2 linked regions of the Homo sapiens genome follow. The protein of the gene in region 2 interacts with the protein of the main gene of each other region in a biochemical or structural test. Each region holds a gene or a part of one and is shown on either strand. Other genes may lie near its edges.

What was found.
Region 1: of the proteins of MST1R (region 2) and FURIN, one has a biochemical effect on the other in vitro, tested with the Homo sapiens proteins (one study listed by IntAct).

The regions. Positions count from the first base shown.
Region 1 is NC_000015.10:90,871,303-90,875,207, reverse strand, and holds part of FURIN (furin isoform 1 preproprotein), read right to left. Parts: intron 3,669-3,905; exon of another isoform or gene 3,603-3,668; intron 3,041-3,602; exon of another isoform or gene 2,982-3,040; intron 2,355-2,981; exon of another isoform or gene 2,110-2,354; intron 1-2,109. UniProt on the Homo sapiens protein: Ubiquitous endoprotease within constitutive secretory pathways capable of cleavage at the RX(K/R)R consensus motif. Mediates processing of TGFB1, an essential step in TGF-beta-1 activation.
Region 2 is NC_000003.12:49,890,199-49,894,103, forward strand, and holds part of MST1R (macrophage-stimulating protein receptor isoform 1 preproprotein), read right to left. Parts: intron 1,641-3,905; coding exon 1,560-1,640; intron 1,383-1,559; coding exon 1,201-1,382; intron 1,109-1,200; coding exon 999-1,108; intron 453-998; coding exon 287-452; intron 1-286. UniProt on the Homo sapiens protein: Receptor tyrosine kinase that transduces signals from the extracellular matrix into the cytoplasm by binding to MST1 ligand. Regulates many physiological processes including cell survival, migration and differentiation.

The sequences.
Region 1 (3,905 bases), on a different chromosome or scaffold from region 2:
CAAACATGAGCCAAGTGTGGTGGCGGGTGCTTGTAGTGCCAGCGACTTGGGAGGCTGAGGCACAAGAATTGCTTGAGCCCAGGAGGTGGAGGTTGCAGTGAGCCAAGATCGCGCCACTGCATTCCCAGTCTGTGCGACAGAACGATACTCCCTCTCAAAAAAAAAAAAAAAAAAAAAAGTGTAACAGAAGAAGCAGGATGAAGACTATCAAGCCCTGAGTCACTCAAAATCAGAAACAACAAATGAATAAATGTTCACCATGATCAAGGTAAAGAAGATGCATTATAAAGCAGTATGTACACATAATCCCATTTTATTTTTTAAAAACTATTTATACATGTATATTTATACAAACTAAAGCGAAATCTGGAAGGATACACACGCTAAAAAATGTTAACGGTGGTTCTCTCAAGATGGTGAGAATTACAAGTAATTGTTATTTTCTTCTTTGTGTCACTGTATTCTCCAAATCACCTAGGTATGTTTTACATGGGAATAAGATGTTGGCTTTTCAAGGTTCTTAAATGAATGGCATCTATACAACTCACTAGGGTTTCCTAGTTCAGCAAAGCAGATTCAGCCATAGGGAGTTATTCGCAAAGCCCCACAGCTCCTAGGAAGAAAATGGGTGACCCTAAATGGGATGGTGCTTTTAGGGGCCATGTCCTGAGGGGGTGCGGGGGTGGAGATCACAGAGGCTTCACCTCCCTCTATGGCTGAGATGGCCGCTATCAGCAAAGTCAGGGCCCCAGACTCGTTTTTACAGTTTCCTGGGGAACGCTGGGGCCGCCAAGCCCTGCCCTGCCTGGGCCTGGAGGCCCCCAGCTGCCCCCTTGCTTGCTCCACGCCCACCAGCCTTGCGTAATCCGAGCCCAGGCAGCCAGGGCAAACACTGGCTGCTGAGCCAGGAGCGCCAAGGTGAGACTGAATCAATAGTCCGAGTGTTGTTTTTCCTCCTTCAGCAAACAGACGGCGGGACCTCTCTCTGCCCGGGGCCACATAACTGTCCCCACATAGTGCCCCTGACTAGCCAGAAGCCAAGGCCCTGGAGGAAGGGGGGGAAGCTAGGGGAGGTCCCAGCAGTGCTGCTGGGGGTATCCCATATCAGTGCCAAGCTCCCTGAGCAGCAGCAGGGCCCTGGATGCCCTTAGCACTTCCATAGCCAAGGCCACTCTGCCGGATACCAAAAGGAAGGCACCCCAGCTCACGTAGGCCCTGGGGAGCTAGAGAGGCAGGCTCACCACAGAAAACTCCTTGCTTCTCCAGAAGCTGCCCTTAGACACAACCGGCCTCCCTGACTGCTGCAGTCCCACCCTGCAGGCTGGGGGTACTCCACACACAATTCCTGGAGTATTTTCAGTTTGGACCAAAATAACCTGACAGCTGATGGCAGGAGACATCTACAATACAGCTCCTGCACATCCCTGCGGGCAGACTCCACAGGACTTCCAGGGCAGGCCTCGGAACCACAGCCCCATGGTGCTTTGGGTGGTTGGTTCCAGAAAGCTGGCCTGATCAATGGCTGGGCAGCTAGGCGCCCCAGCCCTAGGGGATGGAAGGACCGCCCCCCCCACCCCAAGTCCCTCATTTAACAGAGGATGTGGGACCCTGGGAGCAGAGCCATATAGGAACGGGGCCTCATCTCTCTCCTCTCTCTTGCTGCCACAACAGCTGCCTCTTGGGTCCAGATGTCATGCAACCACCCCCCTGCCCCCACCACCACCAACCACCGTGCTGTGAGTCCTGCTGGAGCCCCCAAATCGAGGCTGGGTTCATCTGGGTCTAGCCCAGATTCCAGCACACTGTAGATGGAGCCGCAGCTGTTTGGCGTTAAAAGTGATTAACCAACTATTTAATTACCTTGCAGCACTCGGAAAGAAAGCAGGCGTCAGGCGCAACTGAACAGTCCCCCCAAAGAAAGAGGGCCAGCCTCCCTCTATCCAACAACCCCAGCCATGGTGAGGGGTGGGGATGGCTTCCAGAAAATGAGACCCCCACAGACGGCTCTGCCACAGCATGTGGGACAAGGGAGGATCCCCGAAAAGAGTAAGAACTGAAAACAATGAATGAATGGGTTTCTCCCCACCCCCATCCCAGACTCTGACTCACCCTCTAGTCCCAGTTTGTCTCAAACCTGGAGGCTTGCTGTATTTCTCATGGTCTTGTTTCACATGGGACTCTGTTCCAGGCTGTGGCCAGAGAGAGCTGTGGGTGCTCTTCCTGGCTGTGTTCTTGGGCAAAGCCCTTTTCTCCAGCACCAGAACCTCCTGACACAGAGAGCCACTCTGGGCCACTCAAATTGCGCCTCACCCCAGGACCGACTGCTGTTTCCCAGACACTGGGGGTCTGGCTCTGACACAGCCACAGAGCAGGCCACGGGAGGGCCACTCGGACACCCAATCAGTCTCTCCCTCTAGCAGAGACACCACGCGGGGTCCTGTTACCAGCCCTGGGAGGCTCCCGTGAATTTATCGCTCCCAGTCCCTGCCCACTATTTGCTGGATGATCTTAACAAGTCACTTCCTCTCCCTGGGCCTCAGTTTCCTTGGTGGTAAAAACTGCTGGACCAGCGGCTTTCAAACTTTTTAAAAAGCCACAGAATCCTTTTTAAAAATCAAATGCTCCGTAGAAGCCCAATATAGGAAATAGTAAAACGAGGGCTGCCCTGCTTGAGAAGAGGTCAGGCTTGGCTAATCTCCTATGCTGTGTCCACACCTGCTCAGCACCCGCCCTCACCAGGCCATATCACCCGGGTTCTCCTCGCACTTCCCAAGTCAGAATAGGAATCCCAACACTCTCCGGTGGATGAGGGTCTGCACCCCAGGGGCCAGGGGGTAGAGGATGATGGGAAAGCGGGTTCTGACCAGACAAGTGACTGCCGTCAGACCTGTCTGGCAAGCAGGCCGCCCCTTGGTCCAGCCACACAGCGGGGGCACAGGGGCCTCGGCCAGGCCGCGGCAGAAGGCAGCCCAGGGACCTACCTGCGCCGGCCGCCGGCGCCCGCGGATCCCGCACCCGAGTCCTGGCCGCACAGGTGTGCGGGCGGGGGCGAGGCCCAAGCGAAGGAGCCCCCGCCTCGCCCCCGGCCGCTCCTCCCCTCCCCGGGCGGAACGCAGGCCCTCCTCGGCCGCGGAGTGGGCGAGCCGGCGGCAGCCCCGGTGGCGGCGGGGAGGCTGGAGCACCCGGCGCCTGCGGAATTTTCTCCCCATCCCGCCCCCAGCAGGGGCCCCGCAGGCGCTTCCTGAGGTCAGAGGGCTCGCCCTGGCCCCACGCGGAAAAGTACCAGCCACGGCCGGGGGGCCGAGACGGGCCCGGCGCGCTCAGGTGGGCTGCGGAGCGCCCTGTCTGCTCCCGGCAGCTCCACCCTCGGGGCCGGCCCCGGGGCCAGTTCCGGAAAGCCGGCGGGCAGCCGGGCCCCGGGGGACCCGGGTCAGGGCTGCACCGGCGCCAGTGCCCCGACCCTCCCCGGCCCGAGCACCCGGGCCGCGGAGCCCGCTCCTGGGGCAGAGCTCCACGGCCCGGCCCGGCCGGCTCCCCTCGGGCCCGGCTCCCAGACGCGCTTGCCTTCCCCGGGCCCCGGGCCCCGCGCCCTCGCTACTTACCCTGGGGAGCCCTGGCGGGGAAACTTTTCCAGGCGACCGCCGCGGCGGCTCGGGCGCCCCTCGGCCGCCCATGCCGCCCGGGCCCGACTGCGGGCCCGCGTTCCCAGCGCCGTGGGCCCCAGCGCGTCCGGCCCCGCGCGGCGGCCCTGCGGGGCCTTCTGGGGCGCCCGCTGCCTCCGGCTCCTGGTAGGGGCAGGTAGGAAGTGGGGCAGGCGATCCCAAAGTCCTCGCGGCCGCCCGGCGCGTCCCTCAGGCCCCGCTGCCGTGCCCCCGCCCCCGGGCTCGGCTCTTCGCCCCGCGAGC
Region 2 (3,905 bases):
CATCACCTGTGTCTTTCCTCTGTCTCCTCCCACTACCTCATCCTACCCAGAGTTGGGGCTGGGCAGGCCCTGGATTATCTGTGAGGAGCCAGTGAGTTCCCAGCCTCCTCTAGCCCTGGCAGGTGTCAGATTCCATCTTACATCTGCCCAAGAGGTGAGCAGATGGGCTGTGGGGGTCATCTACCCTGGGGACTCCCTGGGCTCAGATCATTCAGAGCTGAATGGGTGAGGCCCAGTGTTCTTGGGTGCCAAAGCCATGTGGACTGTAGGGCAGGTGGGGCCTCACCACATCAGACTTGGTGGTAAATCTATAGGTCTGCAGGCTCTCCAGCGCCATCCACTTCACAGGTAGGCGAGCGTGGCGATGCTGTTGAACACTATAGTACTCCCTGTCCAGGATGTCGCGGGCCAAACCAAAGTCAGCCACCTTGACTGTGAATGACTCGTCCAGCCTTAGGGGTAGGGAGAGGATCACACTTAGGACTGGCCCTTACCAGGCCCTGAACCCACCTGTTCTAGGCCCTTACAGAATTTTTTTTTTTTTTGAGACGGAGTCTCGCTCTGTCACCCAGGCTGGAGTGCAGTGGCGCGATCTCCGCTCACTGCAAGCTCTGCCTCCTGGGGTCACGCCATTCTCCCGCCTCAGCCTCCTGAGTAGCTGGGACTACAGGGGCCCGCCACCACGCCTGGCTAATCTTTTTGTATTTTTAGTAGAGACGGGGTTTCACCGTGTTAGCCAGGATGGTCTCGATCTCCTGACCTCATGATCCGCCTTCCTCAGCCTCCCAAAGTGCTGGGATTACAGACGTGAGCCACCGCGCCTGGCCAAATTTCAAAGCCACAGTGTCCAGTCCAAGTCTGCACTGGGCAGACAAAAAAAGTAAGGTGCAGAGAGGGGAGGACAAGGCTGGAGTGGGCCCTTCCCTGAGGCGGCCTTGAGCACCGCACACCCTCATGCCCTGTCCTTTTGCTTCACCCCAGCTACTCTGGACTCTCACATGCAGTTCCGCGCAGCCAGGTCCCTGTGCACAAACTTCTGCTCTGCCAGGTACTCCATGCCGCGGGCTACCTGCAGGCCAAAGCTGATGAGGTCCTTCACGGTGGGGTTCTGGGGGCACAGGTGGGTTGGTGGGCAAGGGCACAGCAGCTCCTTCTCCAGCTGCTGCCCAGCCCCCAACCCAGAGCCAGATGAACACTGACCCGCTGAGGTGAGCGGATGAACTGGAGCAGGTCACCGTGGCACATATAGGGCAGCAGCACATGGGGCAGGCCCTCAGGTGGCAACATGATACCAATGAGAGCCAGCACATTCGGGTGGTTCAGGCCACGCATGAGCAGCCCCTCTCGCAGGAAGGCCTCCACCTGCTGCATCTCTGTGATGCCTGCAGAGCAGCGCAAGTCAGGCACAGGGCAGGGCGTCCCTTTATAAGGCTCAGATGGGGAAATGGGAAATGAAGGTCTCCTGCTCAGGGTCACTCAGTAAGGTGGGAACACAGAGAAAAAGAATCCTCCCAGCCTGAGGCCCCTCCCTCTGCCTTCCCATCTTCTGCCCCACTTACGACTTAGTGACTTGATGGCACATTGGATTCGATTCTGGGCCTGGTCTATGTATTCTCCGTGGTAGACAACTCCAAAGTGGCCTGGTGTGAGGTGCATAATGAGTCGATGAGAGGGGATCCAGGGCCCAAGGCTCACACCACACATTCTCATTGGCAACCAGACCTCAGAGCACTAAACTGGCCAATCTGACATTTTATTTATTTTTAATTTTTATTTATTTTTTTTGAGACCGAGTCTCACTCTTGCCCAGGCTGAAGTGCAGTGGTGCAATCTCAACTCATTGCAACCTCTGCCTCCCAGGTTCAAGTGATTCTCCTGCCTCAGCCTCCTGAGTAGCTGGGATTACAGGCAACTGCCACTACACACAGCTAATTTTTTTGTATTTTTAGTAGAGACTGGGTTTCACCATGTTGGCCAGGCTGGTCTCAAACTCCTGATCTTGTGATTCACCCACCTAGGCCTCCCAAAGTGCTGGGATTACAGGTGTGAGCCACCACACCCGGCCCAATCTGACATTTTAAAAAAGCAGCAGGGCTGCGTGCAGTGGCTCACACCTGTAATGCCAGCACTTTGAGAGGCCAAGGCGGGTGGATCACGAGGTCAGGAGTTTGAGACCAGCCTGGCTAATATGGTGAAACCCCATCTCTAGTCCCAGCTGCTTGGGAGCCTGAGGCAGGAGGATAGCTTGAACCCGGGAGGCAGAGGTTGCAGTGAGCCAAGATCGTGTCACTGCACTCCAGCCTGAGAGACAGGGCGAGACTCCATCCCCCTCAAAGAAAAGCAGCAGAAGCCAAGCGCAGTGCGCCTGTAATCCCAGTTACTCAGGAGGCTGAGGCAAGAGAATCGCATAAGCCCAGGAGTTCAAGGCCAGCCTGGGTAACATAGTGAGATGCTGTCTTTTTTTTAAATTAAAAAAAAAAAAAAAAGGCTCATGCCTTTAATCCTAATACTTTGGGATGCTGGGGCGGGAGGATCAGCTGAGGTCAGGGGTTCAAGACCAGTCTGGCCAACATGATGAAACCCCGTCTCTACTAAAACTACAAAAATTAGACAGGTGTGGTGGCAGTGGCAGGCCCCTGTAATCCCAGCTACTCAGGAGGCTGAGGCAGGAGAAATGCTTGAATCCAGGAGGCAGAGGTTGCAGTGAGCCGAGATTGCACTACTGCACTCCAGCCTGGGCAATAGAGTGAGACTCTGTCTCAAAAAAATAAAAATAAATAAATAAGTAAATAAAGCAGGGTCGGGTGCGATGGCTCACGCCTGTAATCCCAGCACTTCGGGAGGCCGAGGCGGGCGGATCACCTGAGGTCGGGAGTTTGAGACCAGCCTGGCCAACATGATGAAACTCCATTTCTACTAAAAATACAAAAATTAGACGGGCTTGGTGGTGCACGTCTGTAATCCCAGCTACTTAGGAGGCTGAGGCAGGAGAATCACTTGAATCCGGGAGGCAGAGGTTGCAGTGAGCTGAGATCATGCCACTGCACTCCAGCCTGGGTGACAGAGTGAGGTTCTGTCTCAAAAATAAATAAATAAATAAATAAATAAATAAATAAATAAATAGGCTGGATACAGTGGCTCACGCCTGTAATCCCAGCACTTTGGGAGATCAAGGCAGGCAGATCACCTGAGGTTAGGAGTTTGAGACCAGCCTGGCCAACATGGTGAAACCCCATCTCTACTAAAAATACAAAAATTAGCCAGGTGTGGTGGCGGGCGCCTGTAATCCCAGCTACTAGGGAGGGTGAGGCAGGAGAATTGCTTGAACCTGGGAGGGGGAGGTTGCAGTGAGCCAAGATTGCACCACTGCACTCCAGCCTGGGTGATAGAGCAAGACTCCATCTTGAAAAAATAAAATAGGCCGGGCGCGGTGGCTCACACCTGTAATCCCAGCACTTTGGGAGGCTGAGGCGGGTGGATCATGAGGTCAGGAGATCGAGACCATCCTGGCTAACACGGTGAAACCCCATCTCTACTAAAAATACAAAAAATTAGCCGGGCACGGTGGCAGGCGCCTGTAGTCCCAGCTACTTGGGAGGCTGAGGCAGGAGAATGGCATGAACCTGGGAGGCGGAGCTTGCAGTGAGTCGAGATCGCGCCACTGCACTCCAGCCTGGGTGAAAGAGTGAGACTCCCTCTCAAAAAAAAAAAAAAAATAAAATAAAATAAAATAGGCTGGGGGCAGTGGCTCATGCCTGTAATCCTAGCACTTTGGGAGGCTGAGGCGGGCGGATCACCTGAGGTCAGGAGTTCGAGACCGGCCTGGCCAACATGGTGAAATCCTATCTCTACCAAAAATACTAAAAATTAGCCGGGTGTTGTGGCAGGCGCCTGTAATCCTAGCT